5 separate regions of the Homo sapiens genome follow, and all the other regions are linked to region 1. The links come from fine-mapping of genetic effects on gene expression. A gene starts in region 1. Each other region holds a variant in brackets. All regions are shown on one strand. Distances are from middle to middle. Region 1 holds the start of TUT4 (terminal uridylyl transferase 4). Region 2 overlaps ZFYVE9 (zinc finger FYVE-type containing 9). Region 3 overlaps TUT4 (terminal uridylyl transferase 4). Region 4 overlaps TUT4 (terminal uridylyl transferase 4). Region 5 has its middle 22 kb from the start of TUT4.

The links. PIP is the estimated chance that this variant, and not a neighbour inherited with it, causes the effect.
Region 2: its variant is the best candidate, but not a certain one, in a credible set for the expression of TUT4 in putamen (GTEx, PIP 0.65).
Region 3: its variant is the best candidate, but not a certain one, in a credible set for the expression of TUT4 in blood mononuclear cells (TOPMed, PIP 0.59).
Region 4: its variant is the best candidate, but not a certain one, in a credible set for the expression of TUT4 in cerebellar hemisphere (GTEx, PIP 0.57).
Region 5: its variant is the best candidate, but not a certain one, in a credible set for the expression of TUT4 in prostate (GTEx, PIP 0.89).

The regions. Positions count from the first base shown.
Region 1 is chr1:52,550,686-52,555,685 of GRCh38, forward strand. TUT4 (terminal uridylyl transferase 4) reads right to left here and starts at 2,407. Exons shown (of 30, transcript NM_001009881.3): 1 at 2,246-2,407. LOC105378723 (a long non-coding RNA gene) reads left to right here. Exons shown (of 4, transcript XR_007066083.1): 2 at 1-119; 3 at 672-721; 4 at 1,556-2,152. RefSeq lists silencers at 2,020-2,349, 2,420-2,549, 2,590-2,699, 2,710-3,109.
Region 2 is chr1:52,267,907-52,272,906 of GRCh38, forward strand. It overlaps ZFYVE9 (zinc finger FYVE-type containing 9), which reads left to right. Exons shown (of 19, transcript NM_004799.4): 7 at 557-726. Among named protein-coding and RNA genes, the nearest start is that of CC2D1B, 96 kb to the right of the region's middle. The variant CT/C (reference allele first, on the strand shown) is at 2,129.
Region 3 is chr1:52,461,365-52,466,364 of GRCh38, forward strand. TUT4 (terminal uridylyl transferase 4) reads right to left here. Exons shown (of 30, transcript NM_001009881.3): 16 at 3,706-3,809; 17 at 348-405; 18 at 149-252. Among named protein-coding and RNA genes, the nearest start is that of PRPF38A, 59 kb to the left of the region's middle. The variant G/A (reference allele first, on the strand shown) is at 2,303.
Region 4 is chr1:52,501,286-52,506,285 of GRCh38, forward strand. All of the region lies in intron 4 of TUT4 (terminal uridylyl transferase 4), which reads right to left. Among named protein-coding and RNA genes, the nearest start is that of TUT4, 49 kb to the right of the region's middle. The variant T/C (reference allele first, on the strand shown) is at 1,957.
Region 5 is chr1:52,572,855-52,577,854 of GRCh38, forward strand. It overlaps the pseudogene EEF1GP7. Among named protein-coding and RNA genes, the nearest start is that of TUT4, 22 kb to the left of the region's middle. The variant A/G (reference allele first, on the strand shown) is at 2,442.

The sequences.
Region 1 (5,000 bases):
AGTCTCACTATGCTGCTCAGACTGATATCAAACTCCTACGCTCAAGCAATCCTCTCGCCTCCACTTCCCAAAGTGCTGAGATTACAGGCGTGAGTGAGCCACCTGGCCAGGCCCTACAGGTAAGTGTTGGTTATTTTGTTTCTCTGAAACTAGAAACTTTAACAGTGAATAAATTCAAACACCTTTCTTGATCAACAGATCCTGATTTGACATTCTGTAGAGAACACAACATAATTAATGGTACTTATTTTTATGTCAAGATTAACTTTGAGATAAAAAAGAATTCTAATTACTTACTCTAAAATGAATCTGCTGAGAGCTAATAAAAATTCTCTTTAAACAGCTCTTTGTTAATCAGAGAAATTTATAATTATACATTTTGATTCTAAAAGGTCTAAAATTAAAATGTAGACACTGTACTGTTCTAGCTCCAGCAACTAAAAATAAATGTAATTTTAGGTGTCACTTAGAATTTATAAACTTGAACTTATATGCATGACAATATTTGTTAATTTATCTGTACTAACAACTTGGCCTATGACAATGAAAATACTTTAAATTTCTTTTCTGTATTTAAATGTTTGCTGGATTTAAAACATCAAATGTCATTAACTTTCACTTCCATTTCTGAATTATTTTAAGAAAACTTCATTTTTCATTTTCCACACTAGCCAAGTGAAAAACTGCAAGCAGCAGAAAAATTTATCTAAGAGTTTTAAAAGTAAGTTTCTTTTGTTTATATTAAATATAAATATTTTTAAAGCATAAAACGACTTAAAATTCTTATCTTCCCCAAAGTATATGGTTTCTAAGAAGCAATCTTTAAAAATTTGTTTATAAAAGCAACATAGCACACTAGACACTAATGAGTTATCTTAAGCACAGCTTTTTAAGAGAATCAATATTTCATTTTACCAGTTGTGACTAATCAGTACTACGATGCAGTGTAGTGACATACATGAGTTCTAAGCCTAAAGAAAATTTCAGCGCGCTCGCGCGCGCACACACACACATACACACACACACACAAAGTCGGCTTTTCTTTTTAAACCATCCCACAATTCAACACCTCTCGGTGGTATTCTCTGAATTATCATATCTGGCTGGGATTATCCAATTTTATTAGCTAACAGTTCTCATTACTTTAAAAACAGAAACAGGATATGTTCTGTTTCATCAAGTGCTACAAACATTTCGCTGCTGTAAGACTGGAGGGAAAAAATCTTTGGAAATAAAAGGCCATCTGATCCACTCGGGCTAATTACTAAATGCATGCCAACAATACACAATTCGAATTGCATTTCTGGACACAATTTAAGATCACGATAGGGCAGGTCAAATGTGTAAGGAACTACTACTTCTATCAAAATGAAGAAGCAGATATACGGTATCTAAGATCTCACGCAAAATTCATCTAAGACTTCGAAATCTTCTGAAAAGAAAATGTGTAATCAACGTTGTTAATACAACAGTAATTCATCCCATTCAAGTACGACTAGAAATCCCGCTGATGTGCTTCTTTCAGGTCTAAACATCTCATTCTTTCGCAATCCAGATACCAACAGGAGTCTGAAACCCTTCGCAGAGGCGTGCAACACACTAGGAGAGCGCTATCTGTTTACAAATACGAATCTCAGTTACCCACGTCAAAACCGCGCATTACCACCTTTCGACTGGGGGGCGGGGGAGAGAGAAGGCGGGCGAGCAAGAAACAAAATCCACACAGACACCTCTGCCTTCTCCCTACAAGGACGAGCCCGGGGAAACATTCAGTATGTATTATATGCGTGTATACATTTATATACATTATGTAGTCACCTATGTCTAAGCAAGGGTGAAAGAAAAAGGTACACATGACAGGGAATCGTAACTGGACCCAACAGAAATGTTCAAACCAATCCCGTTAACTCAAAATCCGCCCCGCTGGTCTACAACAGGTTTCGGTCCGGGACCGGGAGCCCCAGCCACAGTGTGGAGTTCGTCCCCAAAGCGCCCCAATGCCCTCCTCAGGCCGCCCAGGCCGCCGTCCCCACCTCCCTTATCTCAGCCTTCCCCTGGGACACCCGAAGCCCGTTCCAGGAAAGAAAGAAGTGTCAGGCCCCCAGGGGGCGGCTGAGACGCTCTCAGGCCAGGCCCCCGACACCTGCGAAGCGCGGCACCTGGGGAGGGCGAACCGGGGGCCGCCCGGCCTTCCCGAGCACACCCCCTCGGTACCCGACGCTGCCCCGCGGCCGGAACCTCGTACCTGCGAGGCCCGCGAGCTACAGGCGCGCGCGACGCCTCCTCATCTCAGTGGCTCCTGCTCTCCCTCCGCCTCCTGCTGCCGCCGCCGTCGCCGCTGCCGCCGCTGGAGGCCGGGACACGACTAGCTCAGGACTCCACCGCCATGTCCGCCGCGCCGCGAACTGCATTGTGGGGGGGAAGGGATGGGGAGGGGGAGGAGGAGGGAGAGGGAGAGGGAGAGAAAGAGGAGGACCCGCTGAGGGGAGGGGGCGAGGGAGAGCGGTTGCCGGGGGAGAGGGGGAGGGGAGAGGACAGAGCCTGTAATGGGGTCCTGGCCCGGGAGAGGAGGAGCTACGCGCAGAGGGAAGGGTTCAGGGGTGCCCCCTCCCTTCGTTCGGGGGGCCCCACAGGCACCGTTTACACCGGGGCGGGGGAGGGGGGAAACAGCACTGGGGGGAGGGGTCTCGTGGTGGCCGCGAAGAAACAATGGGGAGAAGGCCGAGGTAGGAGGATCGCGCACTCACACCCACGCGGAGGGAAGGGAGCGCGCGAGAGACACTCGTTAGCTCGCGAGGAGGGGGCGGGCCGCTGGCAGAGGGGAGGAGGGAGCCACCCGGGGCTCGCGGGCAGGGGCGGGGCCGCCGAGCGGAGGTCGCGAGGTCCCGCAGCCCGCCTGGGCGCCGCGGGTTAGCCGCGCTGATTCGCCCGCTTGCCGGAGTGGGTGGGGGTGGCGGGCGCCCCAGTGCTGCCCCAGTCTGGTTCCTAGTCTCTGCCGAGGCCCCCGAGCTGGAAGCCGAGCCCGAGGGCCGCCTCGGCGCCTCGCTCCCAAGGCTGCTCCCCCTGGGGAGGAAGGCCGGCCTGGAATGGGTACCCTCTGGCCTGGCACTCGGACTGGGCGTGGCCCGAGCCTCGGCGGACCCTCGGAAGCCCAAGCGGGCTTCGGAGCAACGGTAGGGAGCGGGGCAGAGGAAGCCGCCAGGGTCGACCCCCACCCACTCACCACGGCCTCCAGCCCACCGCAGCTGGACCTTTTTTCCTTTGAAAAGGCAGGCAGTTCAGGAATGAAGGAGCTCGAAGAGAAATCTCTGGAGCACTCCATCTCCCACCCCCAAAAGAGGTTTTAGAAATCATTTCTTTAGCTGCAGGCGGGCATAAAACCATCTACCATCAATGGGCCCCCTCATCCCCTTGCTTTTAACGTATTACATTCCTCTACATAATTATTTAAAGTCACGGGCGGAACGGACTTAAGGTTTTGTTAGTTTTGTTTTTTGTTGTTTTTTTTTAAGACCCCAGCCTCAGAGATTATTTAGCCAATCTCTGACCTCAAAGCTGGACAAAGCACACAACCTCTGTGCTCTGTGCCCAGTCCTTTGAGTTTGACACATGCTAGGCAGGAAAAAGGTATGAAAAGAGTGGACGTAGAGGTGAAGGGAAGATGTTAAATCTTAAGTATTTACAAGATAGTGCCTTATAAATTTTCTTATAATGTGACTCAGGCTGGGACTGGTTAGAGGTCACAGAGGGACGCTCCACTTCACGATAGCCCTGTGAGTTACGTACTGTTGCTCTCATTTACGGATGAAAAAACTAGGGTTCAGAGTTAGTGCATTTTACCCCAATCTGGCTGATGCTACAAGGCCCAGGTATAATGGATAGAGGACTGGATTTCAAGTCAAAAGAGCCCTACCTGGTTTTGGCGTTTATCAACATGATGCCTTTGAGCAAATGTACCCTCTTGAGTTTCCTCATCTGCAAATTCTTAATCTGTATCCCTGCTTCGCTTGACTAGCCTGGAAACAAAGAAAAAATCCCTACTTCACCCGGCTGAAAGCCTAAAGCCTATAGAGACACTAAGAAGATACCGACATGCCCTTCAATTCAGTGATAGCAGTGTCCTTAGAACAAGTTCAATTGAGTAAACATTTCCTAATTACTTAAGAGCAAAGCGTTGTTAGGTGCCTAGGGAAACAAAGACAAATCATTGCTTCCTGTCTCCAAAAAGTTCCCCATTGAGCAAGCAGGTGAGCTACAATAAAAGCAACAGGTCTTATTAACAAAGGGCTGGGCAAATCCAGAGGAGAGTGTGATAAATTCCACTTTGGTGAGACTTCCGTGGAAGAACTAAAAGCTGGACCTTGAAGATCTGTCTGCTGTGTGCCAGACACATGTCTGTGATTCAGAGGGCAGCATTGACTCTGGAGTGTGCAGAAGATAATGAATCTGGAAAAGAAAACTGGGGCCAGACTGAAAATTTCAGTGCCTCTCTGCCCTTATCCCCTCCAGATACTCTCTTCTACTACCTTGCTTATTCCCCAAGACCCAGCTCAACCTCTACCTTCTTTATTAAATCTTCCTGATTACCACCCCTCCTCTGCACTCCACTGAATGTGATCCCTCTATTCTCTGAATTCCGTGACCCCAATAGATTGTACACTTCAGCACAGATACTTACAAGGTATTCCTTCTGATACCTACATAGTTGTCGAGTTGAAAATTTTGACAACTATAATTTTATCATCACAGCTAGAGCAAGTATGGTTCTGACACAAAGAATAAGGAAATTTATGGAGTATAAGGTTTAATTCATGCCCAGGGTCATACAGTAAGTCACAGGCTGGACTAGAATACCAGCCCTGTATTCTTCCCATTGAACCACAGGTTTTTGAGATATAAAATGGTAAATGTCTGATTTCTATGTAAAAATCCTCTGAGGACTTAAACTTTCAAGGGAAATCTCATGATTGTGGTTAAGCCTCCAGTCTGGAAGTTCTGAA
Region 2 (5,000 bases), 280 kb before region 1:
TTACACTTCAGGCAAAGATCTGGTCAGTTTGCTTCCCAATTCTTACATATCTGTGCCAGCTCTTCTGTTATAAATGAATTATTCTTTAACATTCTTCAGGGCATCTTTTGCCCTTTGAAAGTACCATATCACTTTACCAGATGTTTAATTTCTTTGGAAACCTCATAACTTTAGAAAATGTGAATGTCTATTGCTTTTTTCACCATGCTATTAATTTATTTCCGAGGCCCTTGAACACTTTCCTTAGTTTCTCTGTCAGTGATACGGGACAGAGTATGTGACATAATCATAGATGTATTTAAGAACTCTTAATATTTCAAAGCAAAGTATTTTACTCTTTGCATATAAGTTAAACAAGTAAAGAATATATTTAAATTTGTATTTTTAATTCATTTATAACCACTTTTATATACAGTTACATTTCTGATGTTTCTGATTGTAAGTTGCCAAGTAATGATTTCTTTGTACATCTGGAATTGGTGACCTTCTCTTCTTTGATGTTAGAAAACCTTCCAATGCCACATTGATGCCTGTTTTATTTTTCTGGCCCCTCAAGTGGCTCAGCCCAGAGAGCAGAGGCGAGTTTGGTTTGCTGATGGGATCTTGCCCAATGGAGAAGTTGCTGATGCAGCCAAATTAACAATGAATGGAACTTCCTCTGCAGGAACCCTGGCTGTGTCACACGACCCAGTCAAGCCAGTAACTACCAGTCCTCTACCAGCAGAGGTAAGAAAACAAAACAGCAACTAAAATTGCATAGCTACTTTACTCAGCATTGTGCTGCCTCTGTTGAATTACTTTTGTGTGGAACTCTGTAGGTTTTGGATACAACTTAGTGTATACGTGCACATATATGGATAAAGTAAATGTGGCAAAAATCAGCTGCTGTTCTTTGCTGTATATTTAGAAGTTTTTTCAGGAGAAAGGTTCTTAATGAAGATTGTTCTCAGATGAGCTCAGGTGCTCCACTTTAGCTAGCAGTCGGGCTGTGGGGAATTCTGTCCCCTTGCTACATTGGTTTTTAAAGCATGTTCCCCAGGTTCCATGGCAGCCTCTCAGGAGTGCTATGGTGAGGAAGAGCAGGTAACATGAAAGGGCCTGAGGAGCTGAGTTTAAAACCCTGGCTTATCAACATCCCCTACCAGAGTGGTACACTTGTTACACTTGTTGAACCTACACTGACACATCGTAGCCAACCCAAGTCCACATTTTACATTAGGATTGGATACTTTTTTTTCTTTTTTTGAGATAGAGTCTCTGTTGCCCGGGCTGCAGTACAGTGGCGTGATCTTGGCTCACTGCAACCTCTACCTCCCAGGTTCAAGCAATTCTCCTGCCTCAGCCTCCAAAGTAGGTGGGATTACAGGCGCCTGCCATCATGCCAGGCTAATTTTTGTATTTTTAGTAGAGACAGGGTTTCACCATGTTGCCCAGGCTGCGTCTCGAACTCCTGACCTCAAGTGATCCACCCCCTCAGCCTCCCAAAGTGCTAGGATTACAGGTGTGAGCCACCACACCCTATCAGGATTGGATAAAAATTTTACTCCTGATGTTTTCATAGAATTGTTAGTTACTAATTATTTATATTAATGATAAGTAATATTTTTTTAGACATTTACATCCTATATAATTTGTGAGTTTGATTGTAATTGAAATTGCATGTTGTTAAGATTAGATTTTTTGACATGCAGAGCTGACTTACCTGTTTGGTGAGTTATTGAACCATGTAATATCTGTCTTCAAATATTTCTAGTTTTTGAATTTTTCTGTGGCTGCAGAGGGTGACAGCCAGAACTGTGTCTTATCCTTCTTTGTATCTCCACAGTGACTTTGTCAAGAAAGTTTTTTCTTTATTCCCCCCAACTGTTTTTTTGTTTGTTTGTTTTGGTTTTTTTTTTTGAGACAAGGTCTCACTCTATCGCCCAGGCTCCAGTATAGTGCCGCAGACATGGCTCTCTGCAGCCTTAACGTCCCAGGCTCAAGCAATCCTTCTGCCACAGCCTCCCAAATAGCTGGGACTGTAGGCAAGCCTGGCCACAACTGTTTATTTGGAAAAAAATTCAACCTACAGAAAAGTTACAAGAATAGTACAGTGAATACCCATATACTCTTCACCTATCTTCATCAA[CT/C]TAACCATTTTGCCACATTTGCTCTACCACTTCACAGTACACACGCTTTTTTTTTATGACCCATTTAAGGATTGGTTGCACTTCACCACTTAATAGTTCAGCTTGTGTACCCTAAGAAAAGTCATTTTCTTATACAACCACAATGCAATTATCACATGAGATGGAAACTTAACATGTAATTCTGGTTTCCCCAATTGTCACAATAATGTTCTTTATAGCTTTAATTTTTTTGTTTTGTTTTGTTTTGAGATGGAGTCTTGCTCTGTCGCCCAGGCTGGAGTGCAGTGGTGCGATCCTGGCTCACTGCAAGCTCCGCCTCCCGGGTTCACGCCATTCTCCTGCCTCAGTCTCCCGAGTAGCTGGGACAACAGGCGCCCGCCACCATGCCCAGCTAATTTTTATGTATTTTTAGTAGAGATGGGGTTTCACGATGTTAGCCAGGATGGTCTCGATCTCCTGACCTCCTGATCTGCCCTCCTTGGCCTCCCAAAGTGCTGGGATTACAGGCGTAAGCCACCGCGCCTGGCCTATAGCTTTCATTTTTACATATATGTGTGTGCACAGATATATTAATTTTTAAAATAAAATTTATTTTTAAAAATCAAGATCTCATTAAGGACCACAGTTGCATTTAGTTGTCATATTTCTTTGGTTTGCTTTAATCTTGAATAGTTCTCTCTCTTTTTTAAAGTTTTTATATCATTAATATTTAAGTATTTGGGCCATGTTTTACATGATACTCTCAATTTGTATTTGTCTGTTTTTTTTTTTTCTCATGACTAGTTTCAGATTAAACATTTTTTGGCAGTAATGACAATCCTACATAAGTGAGGGTGATTTCTTAAAGGATCACATCAAGAAGTATTAGTTTGGGTTGGGTGCAGTGGCTCACATCTGTAATCCCAGCACTTTGGAAGGCCAAGGCAGGAGGATTGCCTGAACCCCGAGTTTGAGACCAGCTTGGGCAACATAGTCAGACTCTGTCTCTATATAAAATTAAAAAATTAGCTGGGCATGATGGCACATGCCTGCAGTCCCAGCTACTCAGGAGGCTGAGGCAGGAGGGTGATGATTTTCTCTTTCTGTTAAATTTCTTTCCTATCTCTTAGTTTGTATGATGGGTTCTTAAACTATAAATATTTTTGAAAGAATGAGGAAAGTCTAGTGAGTGAATGTTATAGGGAAACAATTTTCTGCTCATTATAAGACAGGCTAAGCCACATTATTTTGTGCTCTCACATTGTGCAACACTCTAATATTTATGTGGTAAAATGAGAGAAAGCAAACTCTTTAATGCCAGACTAGAAAATATTAATATTTTTCTTATTTTTATGGTCTAGTAGAGTGCCTGGCACTTAACAAGTGCCCAGTAAATGAAGTAAATGTCTTTTTATTATTATTATTATACTTTAAGTTCTGGGATACATGTGCAGAACCTGCAGGTTTGTTACATAGGTATACATGTGCAATGGTGGTTTGCTGCACCCATCAACCCGTCATCTAGATTTTAAGCCCCACAGTAAATGCCTTTTCACAGAAGGCATTTAAGTAGAGACCAACTGACCACTTTTTATGATATTAAAAGGAGGATTTTTGCACCATTCAATAGTAGGTTAGAATAGATTATTTTCTGTACCAGGCCTTCAAGTCAGTTAATGGTAGTTTGCCAGTAAAATTTTATAAAGTTCCTATATGATGCCATACCGGAAAATTTTAGAAATCCCACTAAAAATGTATAGTCCTAAAAACTTTGTCCTAAGTAGAGACAGAAGTATGGCAAAACATGGGCATATTTATTTTATTTTATTTTATTCTTTGTTTGAGTCAGAGTTTTGCTCTTGTTGTCCAGGCTGGAGTGCAGTGGCATGATCTCAGCTCACTGCAACCTCCGCCTCCTGGGCTTGAGTGATTCTCCTGCCTCAGCCTCCTGGGTAGCTGGGATTACAGGCGCCCACCACCACACCTGGCAAATTTTGTATTTTTAGTAAGAGACGGTTTCACCATGTTGGCAAGGCTGGTCTTGAACTCTTGGCCTCAGGTGATCTCCCCTCCTTGGCCTCTCAAAGTGCTGGGATTACAGGCATGAGCCACCATGTCCAGCCATATTTTGAAGAAATAGTTTTAATGTTTGTTCAGGTATACAATATATGTAGCAAAATGCATGACTAAGGAGCATGAATCTTTAGGAAACACCTTGAATTTATACATGGTTTTATATATATGTGCATGTGTGTATACACACACAAACACACACACATAAAATATGTAAGCACCATTCAGGTGAAGATACAGAACATCTCCAGCACTCCATAAGGGTTCCTTATGCACTTTTTCTGTCAGTACCTTCTCCTTTCATCAAGGTAACCATTGTTCTCACTTCTGTCCCTACAGATTAGTTTTGCTTATTCTTGAATTCATATAAATCCAAACAATAGTATATAATGTTTTGTGTTTAGCTTTTTAAGCTCAACTTAATATTATGAGATTTATCCATATGCATCAAAAATTAATTTATTTCTGAGTAGTATTCCATTGTATGGATATGCCATCATTTATGTTATGTTCTCCTGTTAGTGGCCATTCAAATTGTTTCCAGTTTTTGGCTATTATGAATGAAATGAAGCTGCTAGAAATAATCTTTTTTTTTTTTTTTTTTTTGAGTCTCGCTCTGTTGCCCAGACTGGAATGCAGTGGCAGGATCTCGGCTCACTGCAACCTCCACCTTCCAGGTTCAAGCAATTCTCCTGCCTCGGCCTCCCAAGTGGCTGGGATTACAGGCACACGCCCAGCTAATTTTTATATTTTTTGTAGAGATGGGATTTCACCATATTGGCCAGGCTGATGTTGAACTCCTGTCCTTAAACAATCTGC
Region 3 (5,000 bases), 89 kb before region 1:
TGACCTTCAATCTGAAGGAACTATCAAGATAACTAGTAAAATACTTTTTCCTTATACTGTTCACATTTGAAAGTTTTAAACATAGAGTCAGTAATCTGTAAACTTTTAAAATGAAAAGTATATACATGGCCTATAAAGATAAACTTACCAACGTATTATATAAACTGATATCGCCTTCTAACCCACTTCGCCTGTGTTCAAATTTTACTATAGGCACTTTGGCAGTAGTTATAGGCAAAATGTTTCTTAAACCTAATTTAAAAAAAAAAGACTTCAGTAGGTTAAATAATTTTCATATATGCTAAAAAAATTTATTTTGTTTTACAGATAAGATTCAAAATTCATACCTGGATGTCTCTTAAGAATTTTTGCCAAATTTTCAATTATTTCCTTACAATTTAATTTCTAAAAAACAAATCAAATAAATAAGTTTGACTCAATTTCACCTTGTGCAAATTCTACTTTAATCTAAGCATTTAATAGTAGCATTTACAATTTCCAGCCATAAAGCTCTATAATAACCTTGCTACTCCAAGTAAGTGATTCATAGACCTACAGTATCAGCATAATCTGGAAACTTGATAGAAATGCAGAATCTGAGGACCCTCCCCAGTCTACTAAATCATAATCTGCATTTTAACAGGATCCCAAGGTAATTCACATGCAGATTAAAGTTTGAGAAGCACAAAGACAGGAGAAGAATATGGTTTTCAATAAGTGAATAAACAACTAGAGGTGAGTTTGGTGAGGGCAAAACAATATACTGATTAAGTACATAGGCTCCAAATTGAGACAAACCTGGATTCAAATCTTTTTTTTTTTTTTTTTTTTCTTTTTTTGAGACGGAGTCTTGCTCTTTCGCCCAGGCCGGAGTGCAGTGGTGCTATCTCGGCTCACTGCAAGCTCTGCCTCCCGGGTTCATGCCATTCTCCTGTCTCAGCCTCCCGAGTTGCTGGGACTACAGGCACCCGCCACCGTGCCCGGCTAATTTTTTTGTATTTTTAGTAGAGACCAGGTTTCACCGTGTTCACCAGGATGGTCTCGATCTCCTGACCTCGTGATCCGCCCGCCTCAGCCTCCCAAAGTGCTGGGATTACAGGCGTGAGCCACTGCACCCAGTCTCAAATCTTAAACTAAGTATTGATTAGCTGTGTGACTAACCAGATGTTTAACCTCTCTGAGCATTACATTACTATTCTATAAAATCAAGATAATCATAAACTCCTGTCCTGCAGAGCTGTTGGGAGGATTACATGAGACATGTATGTAAAGCACTCAGCAGAATGCCTGGCACAAAATAAGCCTTTAAATCTGTGAGTTATTTATTATAATTATGTTGATATGGAAAAGAAAGATACTCCTATTATCACCAGCACCTATTTCTCCAAGGAAATTCTTACCTCTGTAAATTTAAATGTGTTACTCTTGTAAAAACCAGAGACAGCAGAGTTGGTATGGTAATGATAATCATAATACATAATGATTATGGCATTAAAAATTAACTGGAAATAGCTGAAGGGTATAAACATCAATCCCAAGAGTTATAAAGTCATTTGCATTTTTCCAACATGTTCTTTTTAGCTACATGAGAGCAGGAGCCATTGCAGCTAAACCAAAGGATTTCAAAGAAACCATTAGTTACTAATTCACATATGATAAAATTAACAAAGGAGGTAATTTTTCTCTTTATTATTCAACGATACAATTATGCTAATCTTAAAAGTTTCAATTATGGCTCATCTGAAAGAAAATGATTTATTATTTTCATTGTTTCAACTTCCCAGTAGGAATGGCACAGATTATATATAATATACAAACCCTTAGTGATTAGAAGTTTAATAAATTTTACATAGAAGATATCTAAAACTCTAACCTCTTTCCTGGGTATAAAAATCATTTCCTATTCCCTCAATTCTTACTCTTCAGAATGGAGAAGGGCAGCCACTTTCCAAGTAGGTGGCTCTAAGCAGAATTTAAGTAAAGGAGAACAAATAAAATACTTGCAACTTTTCAGTTTCTTTATAAAACAAGATGTTAAGACACCAGAAGCAACTTCTTATGGCCAGAAGTTAAGTCATCACTGCCATCTTTACTCCGGGTCTAACAATTTCAAAACCACCGTTCAAAAGAATGATTTTAGAAAAGCACACTATTCTGCTGAATTCTTTTATAATGTAACAGAGGCGATACTGACACCACTACAGATGCCAGAAGCTGGGCCTCACCCCAATCTTGCAAACAGTCCCGCATTTTGAAACATAAATAACAATAGCTAGGCTGGTAAAGGACTGAACATCTACAA[G/A]GATACCCTCCTTTGCTAGTTGCTGTTGAGAAGGCCTGGGACACTTCTTCCCTGTCCAATCAGTCTTTTTCTTCCCTGGAGCTTGGACAATCTCCTTCCCACTATTAAGGCCTGGTATACAAAAAAGGAAAGCGTAAGTACCCACTCTTACTGCTGAAATTGCACTTGGGGAAGGTCTGCTCCTGGCATCTCACGGTGGAACTCAGAAAGCTATCAGTTTCAGAAAGCAGTGGTTAGGTTCTACAGTACTATTAGTACTATATTTCAGCTACATTATGGGTTAAAAAAATTACAGAGAGGCAGTGAGATACAATGGAAAGAGCATGAACTCTGGAGTCAGACAGACCTGGGTTACGAATCCCGGCTCCAACAATTACTAGCTGTGTGAACTTGGACAAGTCAGTTTATCTTTCAAAGCCTCAGTTTCCTCATCTGTAAAATGGGGGAAATAATACCTACCTCGAAGGTGGTTGTAAGAATGAAATGAGATAATGTATGTAAAAGTGTATACTGGGAACTCAATAAATGTTAGTTCTCCTCCCCGCCCAAAATGAGTTTCTAAAAGCTATCTTAGCATTTTATTTATTTATTTTTTTTTTAATTTTCTGAGACGGAGTCTCACTCTGTCACCAGGCTGGAGTGCAGTGGCGTGACCTCGGCTCACTGCAACCTCCGCCTCCTGGGTTCAAGCGATTCTCCTGCCTCAGCCTCCTGAGTAGCTGGGACTACAGGCGCGTGCCACCATGCCCAGCTAATTTTTTTTATTTTTCGTAGAGACGGGGTTTCACCATGTTGGCCAGGAGTGTCTTGATCTCTTGACCTCATGATCCGCCCACCTTGGCCTCCCAAAGTGCTGGGATTACAGGCATGAGCTACCACGCCCAGCCCTTAGCATATCATCTGTAACATTGCTTCTATGGAAAAAATTTTATGTGAGTGGTCAAAAATTATAACTAACTTTTAGAACAAAACCAATTATAAATTAGATGACCACCTATATTTACTACCTATAGTAACACAAAGACATCATCTAATGAAAGAGATATGAGAAGACAAAGTATGAAAGATCAATGTTCACTACAAAACTGATGCATCAGCTTCCCATTGGTTCTAGTGAAAAAATTCCAACTTCGTGATATATTTTTTCCCAAAATTCATTACAAATCACTGTAACTCTCAGTGACATGGTTTTTGTATCATAAAATTACTGAAACACTTTTACTTAAGAGTTCAATGTCTTCTAAACTGAAAATGCTACTGTTTTCATATTTCAAACACTTATTTTGCTAATATATTTATACAAAGAGTGATACCACATTTTTATCAATATCACATACAAAAATAAACATAGAATCGTCATTGGGAGAAAATAAACTTACATAACGCTTTCCAAACACTCTTACCTCTGCATTTTCATGGCCTTCCAGGGTCATACAAATATCCAGATCACTATCACGAAATCCAAATCCATTCTTAGAAGAGCCAAATAAGCACAACCTTGCCTTTTCTAAGCAAAGGAAAACAAAGTCCAAGGCCTTATTATAAGCAGAGAGGAGGAGTCTTCTGCTATCTGCTGATGACCTAATACAACATGCTCTTGTCCATTTCTATGATTTAAATTACCTACCACTGGAAGAAATACTGAGAAATTCCAAAACATCTTGAGCCCAAGCTTTTGCCCAAGTTCCCATACCCATGTACCCAACTGCTTTTTCCAATTTTCCACAGACATCATACATTCAACACGTCTGAACTATCAACTTTGCCCCAAATCTATTACTATTTCTATTATCCCTGTTCTTAGCAAATAGTACCATCATGTACACAGATGCCCACATCAGAAATACAGGTGCAATCCTTAATATCTGTCTCTCAATGTCCACATCCAAACAATCATTGAGACTTTTAGCTTTTTCCGACTTACATAATAAATCCATCTGCTTTTATACATTCTCAACATCACTACCAATAGTTAAGATCAATATTTGAGGACTGCCCTCTTAAAAATAAATTAGTTCTTTCAAAGCACAATTCATGTAGGTTTACAAATATCACCTTAGTATACGATGCTCTTCCAAAAATGAGTGATTATAGTCCACTTGATATAAATTATGATAGGGTTAACCCTTCAGACTCAGTGTCATCCAATAACAGCTACCATTTCAAATAAGCTGTGGTTTAACAGAATTGGATTTTTCTTCCTATTACTTTTTTTTTTTTAGAGACAGGGTCTTGCTATATTGCCCAGGCTAGAGTGCACTGGCTATTCACAGGCACAATCATTATACACTACAGTCTTGAACTCCTTGCCTCAAGCAATACTCCCACCTCAACCTCCCAAGTGGCTGAGATAACAGGTGTGTGCCACTGGGCCTGGCTCTTCCTATTAATTCTAAAGTAGACTACACATTTATAGGACACTTTATACTTTCAAAACTTCATACCCCCATCCAGTTCTGATGCTCTACTTGAAATTTCAATGATAGCTGAGAGGCAAAAAAGAAGCTATACTCATCAGCAAATAAAACTGAGCATGATTTTATATAATAGAGACTTAGATTTGGTCAATACTTTATATACTCCTATAATCCCAGCGCTTCAGGAAGCCAACCAATGTGGGAGGATCGTTTGAGACCAGGCTGGGCAACATGGTGAGACTTTGTCTTTACAAAAATTTTTTAAGATAAAAAAGAAGGCG
Region 4 (5,000 bases), 49 kb before region 1:
GTGAACAAAGGATTTGAATAGACATTTCTCCAAAGATATACAAATGCCAAATAAGTACATGAAAAGATGCTAAATACCACTAATCATTAGAGAAATGCAAATCAAAAGCACAATGAAATACCACTTCATATCCATCAGCATTGCTATTATGGGGGGGCGGGGGGAGGCAGAAAACAAGAGTTGGTGTGAATGTGGAGAATTTGGAACCCTTGTGCATTACTGGTAAAGATGTACAATGATGTCACCACTGTGGAAAACAGCATGGCAATCCCAAAAAACTAAACATGGATTTACCATTTGACCCAGCAATTCCAATTCTGGGTATATACAAAAAACAAATGAAAAAAGGAACTCAAATAGGTATTTGTACATCGATGTTCACAGCAACATTATTCACAACAGTCAAATGGTGGAAACAACCCAAGTGTCCATCCATGGATGAAATGATTCACAAAACATGGCATACAGATACGATGGAATATTATTCAACCTCAAAAAGGAAAGAAATTCTGACAGATGCTACAACGCGGTTGACCTGAAGACATGCTAAGTGAAATAACACTAAAGGATAAATAATGTATGATTCCATTTATATGGGGTACCTACAATAGACAAGCAAATAGAAACAGAAAATAGAATGGTGGTTACTAGGGGCTGCAGGGAGAGGGGAATGGGGAGTTATTGCTTAATGGATACAGAGTTTCAGTATAGAATGATGAAAAAGTTCTGAATGAAGGTGGACAGTGGAGATGATTGCAAAACAATGTAAATGTACTTAATGTCACTGAACTGTACACTTAAAAATGGTTAAAATGGTAAATTTTATCTTATATATATTTTACCACAATAAAAAAATTTCAAAAAAAAAAAAAACCTTCAATGCGCCGGTAAGACAATGCAACATGTTCTTAACATGGAATATAAAGCATTTTGGTCTCAATTTGCATTTCTAGGCCTTCCTCCAACCATTCCCTCCACCCTCTCCAATATTTTTGACAGACATCCACATTTAAACAGTCACCAGTCTCCAAATACTCTATGTGCCATTGGGTCTCCATGCCTTTAAATCATTTTGTCCCCTATGTGTATCCACCTGGTAAAACTAATCATCCTTCAAGTTACAGCTTAAAAGTCAAATATTCAGCGAACCCTTAATATCTTTCTTTTCCAACATAATGAAATGCTCCATTTAAATCATGATTAATACTATCACCTGTGCTCTGAATTCCATCCTTCTTTACCCACTCAGTAATAATCTCCTTCTCCTTAAACATTACACAATCTACTAGTCTGTGTTTTCATTAAGTAAGCCCTCTTAGCCCTCTTTTTTTTTTTTTTTTTTTTTTTGAGATGGGATCTCACTCCCTCTGTCACCCAGGTTGGCGTGGCGTGCAATTGAGTAATCTCTGCTCACTGCAATCTCCACCTCCCAGATACAAGCGCTCCTCCACCTAAGCCTCTCAAGTAGCTGGGACCACAGGCACGTGCCACCACGCCCAGCTAATTTTTTGTATTATTGGTAGAGATGGGGTTTCACTATGTTGCCCAGGCTGGTCTCAAACTCCTGAGCTCAGGAGATCCACCTTCCTTGGCCTCCCAAAGTACTAGGATTACAGGCGTGAGCCACCAAGCCTGGCACATTAAGTAAGCACTCTTCGCCTCTACACTAACAGCAACAACTATCATTTATTGAGTACCCACTATGGACCTGGCACCGTGCCAAGTGCTTTACAGATGTTATGTCATTTAATTCTCACAATATTACTCCCCAGATAGATACTACCAAAACCATTTTATACATAAGAATACTGAGGCTTACAGATGTTAAATATCGTCCTACAACTACAAGGTGGAACTGAGAATTAAATCTAGTTCTAACTCCAACCCGTATGCTCTTTCCACTCCATTTAAATCATTAATCAACAAATATTTATGGAACAACTATATGCCAGGTAC[T/C]GTGCTAAGATGGGAAAAAAATAATGCATATAATCCCAGCCCTCATGGAGCTTACAGTCAAGAGAGAAAGATTAATTAAATGATTATTTAAATTAAAAAATTAAAACTGTGATAAGAACTTTACTCTGCCAAATTAAAAGAAAAAAAAAACTGTGTGCCAGTCTAGCTACTACCAATCTTCCCTTCTTTTCTGCACAATGAAGTTTCCTGAAAGTTGAGTCTATTCTCCTTTTATTTCCTTATCCCTTCTCACTCAAAACTATGTCTTTTTTAGTTCTAAAGCAGAAACTGTTCTTCCCAGGATTATCAAAACCTCCTTAGTTGCCAAATCTGACATTTTAAATTTTTATTTATTTTTTAATTGACAGGATTTTGCTACGTGGCCCAGTATGGACCCAAACCCCTGGGCTCAAGCAATCCTCCCACCTCAGCATCCTGAGTAGCTGAGACTACAGGCACCAAATCAGACATCTTTTAAGCTTTTAGATTATTTTTATCTATATTATCACATTTTCAACTACCATCTTGAAACTTTCCTTTCTTTTAGCTTCTCTAACACCTTTCTCTATTTTTCCTATTATTCTACTCATTCACCAATCTATTCACTGTTCTTCCTCTACTAGTCCCTTAAATGTTTGTATTCCTTGACATTCTGTCCTTACTCATTTGGTGACCTCATCCACAACTATGATTTCAACTGCTGAAGTTTACCAAACCTGAATCTCCAACTGCTAATATAAGTTCCAGATCCTTATATTCAAATGACTGTGGGACATCTCTACTTGAAATGTTCTGTAAGTGTCTCAAACTCAGAATGTTATGAAACATTTTTTATTTCTGCTAAGTAAATGGCACCACAAACTATGATAACATATCAAATCAGACACCTTATGATCATTCAAGACATCCTAGGCCTGTACTCCCACAATTCTACATCCTGAATCTCTCTTAAAACTCAATTCCATTCTCACTAACTACTACTTCAGGTCAGTGTTCATCACAGCTTAACTAGATTATTATGAAAGGCTAACTGGTCTCCCCAAACAGACCCTTCTCAGGCTTCTTTCACAGAAGCCAGGGTGAGTGACCTTGCAAAAATACATGTTATGGCCAGGTGCACTGTTTCACACCTGTAATCCCCGCACTTTGGGAGGCTGACGCGGGTGGATCAGGAGGTCAGGAGTTTGAGACCAGCCTGGCCAACATGGTGAAACCCCGTCTCTACTAAAAATACAAAAATTAGCCAGGCGTGGTGGCATGCACTTGTAATCCCAGCTACTCGGGAGGCTGAAGCAGAAGAACTGCTTGAACCCAGGAGGTGGAGGTTGTAGTGAGATGAGATAGCGCCACTGCACTTCAGTCTGGGCGATAGAGCAAGACTCTATCTTGAAAAAAAACAAACATGTTATTAAACTCCATAATGCTCAAAATAAAAACCAAATACTATAACACAGAACACAAATGCAAAATCAAAACTATCTATCAAGCAATAACTCCCCATTTTCCCCTCCTCCAAACCTATGGCAAGCACTATTCTGTCTCTGATTCTGACTACTCTAAAAACCTCATGTAAGTGGAATCACACACTATTTTTCGTTTTCTAAAAGGCTTATTTAACTTAGCATAATTTCCCAAGGTTCATCCATGTTGTTGCATAATGCAGAATTTCCATCCTTTTTAAGGCTGAGTAATATTCCATTGTATGAATACTGTACATTTTGCTTATCTATTCATCCATCAATGGATATCTGAATTGCTTCCACATACTAGCTATTGTGAATAATGTTGCCATGAACCTGGTTGTATAAATATCTCTTTGAAACCCTGCTTTCAATTCTTTCAAGTGTATACCCAGAAGTGAAATTACTGGATCATACTGTAGTTCTATTTTTAATTTGTTGAAGAACCACCGTACTCTTTTCCATGGCAGCTACACTACTTTCATACCTGTCTTTTTTCCTAATCTTGGGGGGACAGCATTCAGTCTTTCATACTTAAGTATGATGATAACTGTTAGTTTTTTGTAGATTTTTTTTAACAGGGTCTCATTATATTGCCCAGGCTGATCTCAAACTCCTAGGTTCAAACAACCAAAGGAGCTGGGACTAACACACCCAGCTTTGTAGATGTCTTTATCATGTTATAGAAGTCGTCTTCTACTCCTAGTTTGCTTAGACTTTTTTTTTTTTTTTTTTTTTGAGACAGAGTATCACTCTGCCACCCAGGCTGGAGTGCAGTGGCGCCATCTCAGCTCACTGCAACCTCTACCTCTGGGATTCAAGCGATTCTCCTGCCTCAGCCTCTCGAGTAGCTGGAATTACAGGTGTGGGTCACCAAGCCCGGCTAATTTTCGTATTTTTAGTGGAGAGGGGGTTTCGCCACATTGGCCAGGCTGGTCTCGAATTCCCAACCTCAGGTGATCTGCCTACCTCAGCCTCCCAAAGTGCTGGGATTACAGGCATGATCCACCGCACCTGGCTGTGCTTAGACTTTTTATCAAAGCATTTTTGAAAACGCTTTTTCAGCATCTACTGAGATAATCACATAGTTTTCTCTGTTTGCTAACATGGTAAATCACAATGAGCGGGGTTTTTTTTGTTTTTGTTGTTTTTTGAGATGAAGTCTTGCTCTGTTGCCCAGGCTGGAGTGCAGTGGCACGATCTGAGCTTACTGCAACCTCAACTTTCTGGGTTCAGCCTCCCAAGTAGCTGGGATTTCAGGCATGAGCCACGATGCCCAGCTAATTTTTGTATTTTTAGTAGAGACGGGGTTCACCATGTTGGCCAGGCTGGTCTCGAACTCCTAACCTCAGGTGATCCGCCCTCCTCAGCCTCCCAAAGTGCTAGGATTACAGGCCTGAGCTACTGCGCCTGGCCAATGAGGGATTTTTTAATGTAAAACTAACACTGCACTCCTGGAATAAAGCCCCACTTGATCATGACACATTCATTCCTCTAATATGCTGTTGGATTCAATTGGCTAAAGTTATATTTAGAATTTCTGCATCTATGTTCATGAGGAGTTTTGGCCTAAAGTTTTCTTTC
Region 5 (5,000 bases), 22 kb after region 1:
TCTGGAACTCCTAGCCTCAAGTGATGCACCCTCCTGGGTCTCCCAAAGTGCTGGGATTACAGGCATGAGGCACTGCGCCCAGCTTGTATTTCTCCTAAAATGTCAAAATATCCTCTAGAGCCCTCAGTTAGCTAGGGCACCCCAGGGCTCCTCAAAAGACAATTTGGGAAACACACGTATAAAAGGGAAATCCCCTAACAAACCCTCAGGATATTAACACAGAACATCACAGAATCACAAATAGTGGTCATGATACTAACTTTCTCACCTGCATTAACCAGCCCCAGTTCCAGGCTGTCTTGGGGGAAGTAAAATGATAGGAGAAAATGGCCCTATTTGATGCTAAAATATTTGCAGAGAGCAGGCCTAAAAAGGACACCCCACAGGAGAAAAGTTCACGGGAAGAAAAGCAGAAGCCCTAGGCTGAACAGAAAGGAGAAAAAGGCGGCTGACCCTGCTCCTGAGGAGATGGATGAATGTGAGCAGGCACTGGCTGCTGAGCATCGGATAGCCAAGACCCCTTTGCTCACTTGCCCGAGTACCTTTGTGATGGATGAATTTAAGCACAAGTACTCCTATAAGGACACAATGTGGTGCTGCCGTATTTTCGGGAGCACTCTGATAAGGATGGTTGGTCTGAGTATTGCTTTCCTGAGAAGCTCACCCAGACCTTCTGGAGTTGCAATCTCATCGCTGGAATGTTCCAGCAGTTGAACAAACTGAGAAAGAATGCCTTTGCCAGTGCCATCCTCTTTGGAAGCAACAATATCAGCTCCATTTCTGGAGCCTGGGTCTTCACAGGCCTTGACACTGAGTCCAGATTGGCAGGTGGTCTTCGAGTCATACACGTGGCAGAAACTGGATCCTGGCAGCAAGGAGACCCAGACACTGGTTTGTGAGTACTGTTCCTGGAAAAGGGCCTTCCAGCATGTGGGCTAACTTCAGTCAGGGCAAGATCTTCAAGTAAACAGCTCTTGCCATTGCCTTGCTTCCTGTACCTGTTCTTTAAGGAGATGGGGATCATTAAAAGAAACTGAATATTGAAAAAAAAAAAGTTTAATTTAAGGTCAGTTTTTTCCATTTATGACGACTGAGAAATACCAAGTGCCTACTTAACAAGATTGCCATCCAACATTATTAAAATTTAAAATAAAAATATTGGGCCGGGAGTGGTGGCTCACACCTGTAATCCCAGCACTTTGGAAGGCCAAGGAGGAAGGATTGCTTGAGGCCAGGAGTTCAACACAAGCCTAGGCAGCAAAACAAGATTCTGTCTCTACAAAAAAATATTAAAAATTAGCTGGGCATGGTGATGCATGCCTATAGTCGTAGCTACTCGGGAGGATGAGATAGGAGGCTCGCTTGAGCCCAGGAGTTTGAGGCTGCAGTGAGCTATGACTGCGCCACTGCACTCCAGCCTGGGAAATAGCGTAAGACCCTCACTCTAAAAAATAAAGGAATAAATAAAAGTATTGTACTTTTAGCTACACTAAAAACTTCACAAGGTCATTGTCAGGCCCCATCCTTTCCTCAAAGAACACAGACCTTAGAGTCACATAGATTTGGATTCAAATTTAGACCCACTGCTTTCCACGATCTTGAGCAAGTCTCTCAATCTTTCAGATCACCTTCTCATAAAAAATGTAGACCATAATTCTCACCTCTTAAGTTCTTATGGAAAGTGAAAGAACATATAAAAAGTGCCTAGCACAGACCCTGGCACATAACAGGTGCTCAAGACCCCCTTGCCATTTCCTAAACATGCCTTAGACTTGCATCCTACTAAACCTTTGCAACATGGTGCTTCCTTGGCCTGATAAACCATACTGCTTTTGTCTGCTGCCAAACTCTGTTCATTCTGCGTCACCCAACTTAAATACATTCTTCTCTCTGAAGCTTCCCTTGGCTTCTTTGGAGAGAATGAGTCACTCTGTCTTGTTCAGTTCTGCAGGATTTACCACTATCGCCTCACTTGATCACATTGTGTTGTAATTGCTTATTTATGAATCTTCTCCCTCACCAGATTTTATGGTCCTCCTCCATGGCTGAAGCCACATATTTTCACAGCACCTAGCATGGTACTTGGCCCTCAATAAATGTTTCAATGAATGGAGGAATAATAATAGCAAACAGTCAGTGCTTAATTCTAGGCATTATTCCAAGTGCTTTACAAATATTATTAACTTGTTTAATCTTCATGACAATTCTATGAATTATTATCATTTCTCTCTTACAGATGAGGAAAATGGCACATAGAAAAGTTATGTAATTTGTCTAAGGTCACTCAGCTATTAACTGTCAAAGCCAGGATTCAAACCCAAGCAGTTGGTGTGAGTCCAGACTTTTAGCCAACACACTACAATGCCTCCCAGTGAACAAAGGAATGAACAATCACAAACAAATTTGCTTTTCCCAAATGTCTTTCTTTCTCAGGTTTTGGA[A/G]TGGCTCATCCATTCATTTAACAAACACTTTACATAGAGTTTTCTATGTGTATAATTATCACACTAAACACCAATCTCTGTTTTCCTCACCCCGGCCACACCCCACTTCACACAATCTTCACTGCTTGCCCCTAACCTCGACTGCTCTGTGAATTTCTTTGTTTTGTTTTGCTGGAGACAGGGTCTCACCCTGTCACTCAGGTTGGAGAGTAGTGGCATGATCATAGTTCACTGTAGCCTGGAACTCCTGGGCTCAAATGAGCCTCCTGCCTCAGCCTCCAGCCTCCAGCCTGAGTACGTAGGACTTCAGGTGCCCATCATCACACCTGGCTAATTTTTAATATGTTTTTGGAGAGATAAAATCTAGCTATGTTGCCCAGGCTGGTCTCAAACTCCTGGACTCAAGCAATCCTCCCACTTCAGCCTCCCAAAGTGTTGGGATTATAGGCATGAGCCACCGTGCCCAGTCCTCTTTCAGTTTCTGGAATGTGTTGTGCTCTCTCCCACCTCTGACCCATGACTGCCACATTGACTAACTAACTTGTACTTTTTCTTCAATTCTCAGCTTAAATTGCTTCCTTCTGAAAGACTTCCATTTGCCCCCTAAAGAAAGTTAGGTACACCTGCTCTGGGCTTCCCATGGCACTTGACACTTTCCTCATCATAACATTTTTCATACATACTCTTCTTGCCCATTTGCTTGTCAACCTTCTGCACTAGACTATAAGCTCTACAAGAGCAAGAACTGAGTCTATCCAGGTCGTCACTGAATCTGCAGCACCTAGCCTGATGTCTGGCATATAGTAGGTACCTGACACATATTTATCGAATGACAGATTGAAGCATGAGCAAGACAAAATCTCTATGCTTAAGTCTAGTGGGAGGCCAGGCACTATTCATTCCTATAATCCCAGTGCTTTGGGAGGCCCAGGCAAGAGGATCACTTGAGGCCAAAGGTTCAAGACCAGCCTGGGCAACATAGCAAGACCCCATCTCTACAAAAATAAATAAATTAGCTGGCATGGTGGTGTGTGGTTGTAGTCTTAGCTATTCAGGGGGCTGAGGTGGGAGGATCTCTTGAGCCCATGAGTAATTACAGTAAGCTATGATTGTGCCCCTGCACCCCAGTCTGGGCAATAGAGCAAGACCCTTTTTCTTAAAAAATAAAAAAATACAGAACTCTATTGGGGGAAATAAAAGCCTAGAGGGGATACAGGAAAATAAACACTTGTAGTATATTGTGATAAGTGCTATAATAGAGATCCCAGGGTCCTTCAGGGACATAGAGGGAAAGATTTCTAACTCTACTTGAGGTAAAGTGGAAGGGGGAAAGCTCACCAGAGTCTTAAAGGATAAGTGAGAGTTGAAAAGAAAGAAGTAGTATTAGCCAGGCGCAGTGGCTTATGCCTATAATCCCAACACTTTGGGAGGCCGAGGTGGACGGATCACTGAAGTCAGGAGTTCGAGACCAGCCTGGCCAACGTGGTAAAATCCCATCTCTATGAAAAATACAAAAATTAGCCGGGCGTGGTGGCACATGCCTGTAGTCCCAGCTACTCAGGAGGCTGAGGCACGAGAATTGCTTGAAGCTGGGAGGCAGAGGTTGTAGTGAGCCGAGATCACACCACTACACTCCAACCTGGACCACAGAGTGAGACTCCATCTCAAAAAAAAAAAAAAAAAGAAAAAGAAAGATGTAGTATAGAGGCAAAAAGCAAGAGCAAGAACTGTAATAGAAATTGCTTTTTAGCCTAAATGGCTAAATCATTTTTCTGTGTGTCTAAAAGTAACATTAATCTAAACTTAGTCTTACAATTGGCTTGTTTAGTAAGAATTTGGAAGCAATGTGAAATAACTTAAAAGGCAATTGATGGAATAATGTTATTTCTTAATTATCACTCCTATAAATTCCCATGAAAATCAGTTCTTTATTATCATATTTATCATGCTGCACTACCATTGTCAAAATGTGTCTATCCTACCTGATTGTGAGCTATTTAAGGCCTTGGATTAAAGAGCATTAAGATCTGATTCGATTCTATGTATTCCTCATACTGAGAACAAAGCCAGGCCCAGAGGATCTGTGAATACTCCAGCATGACCACAAAGTCCTAAATGAACTGACCTCCAACAAGCTCTGTTTCTTCTTGCGTCCCATACTCTGTGCTTCAGTCAATATTAAACACCCTTCAGTTCCCTGGACAAAATTTGGCTGCTTAAAGCCTCTAGGCCTTCACACATGCCGACTTCCATTGTCTTCCCACCCATTTCCCAGCGCTTATCTAACTAACTTCTACTCAGCTTTCAGCTTAAACATTACTTCTGAAGGAAGCTTTCTTTGACCTGAAGACACAATTAGACCTTCCTATTATATGGCCTTTAATGCCTTATATTTTTCTTTGGTGTCATTTATCATACTTGTAAATACTTACTCATTCTCTGTCCTTTAGATAGTAAGTTTCATAATTCAGCACTTGGACTAGAGCATATAAGACAGATGCTCAATAAAAATTATTTTGAATAAGTTACTGAAAAAATGAATAAAGTGCTACTATGTGT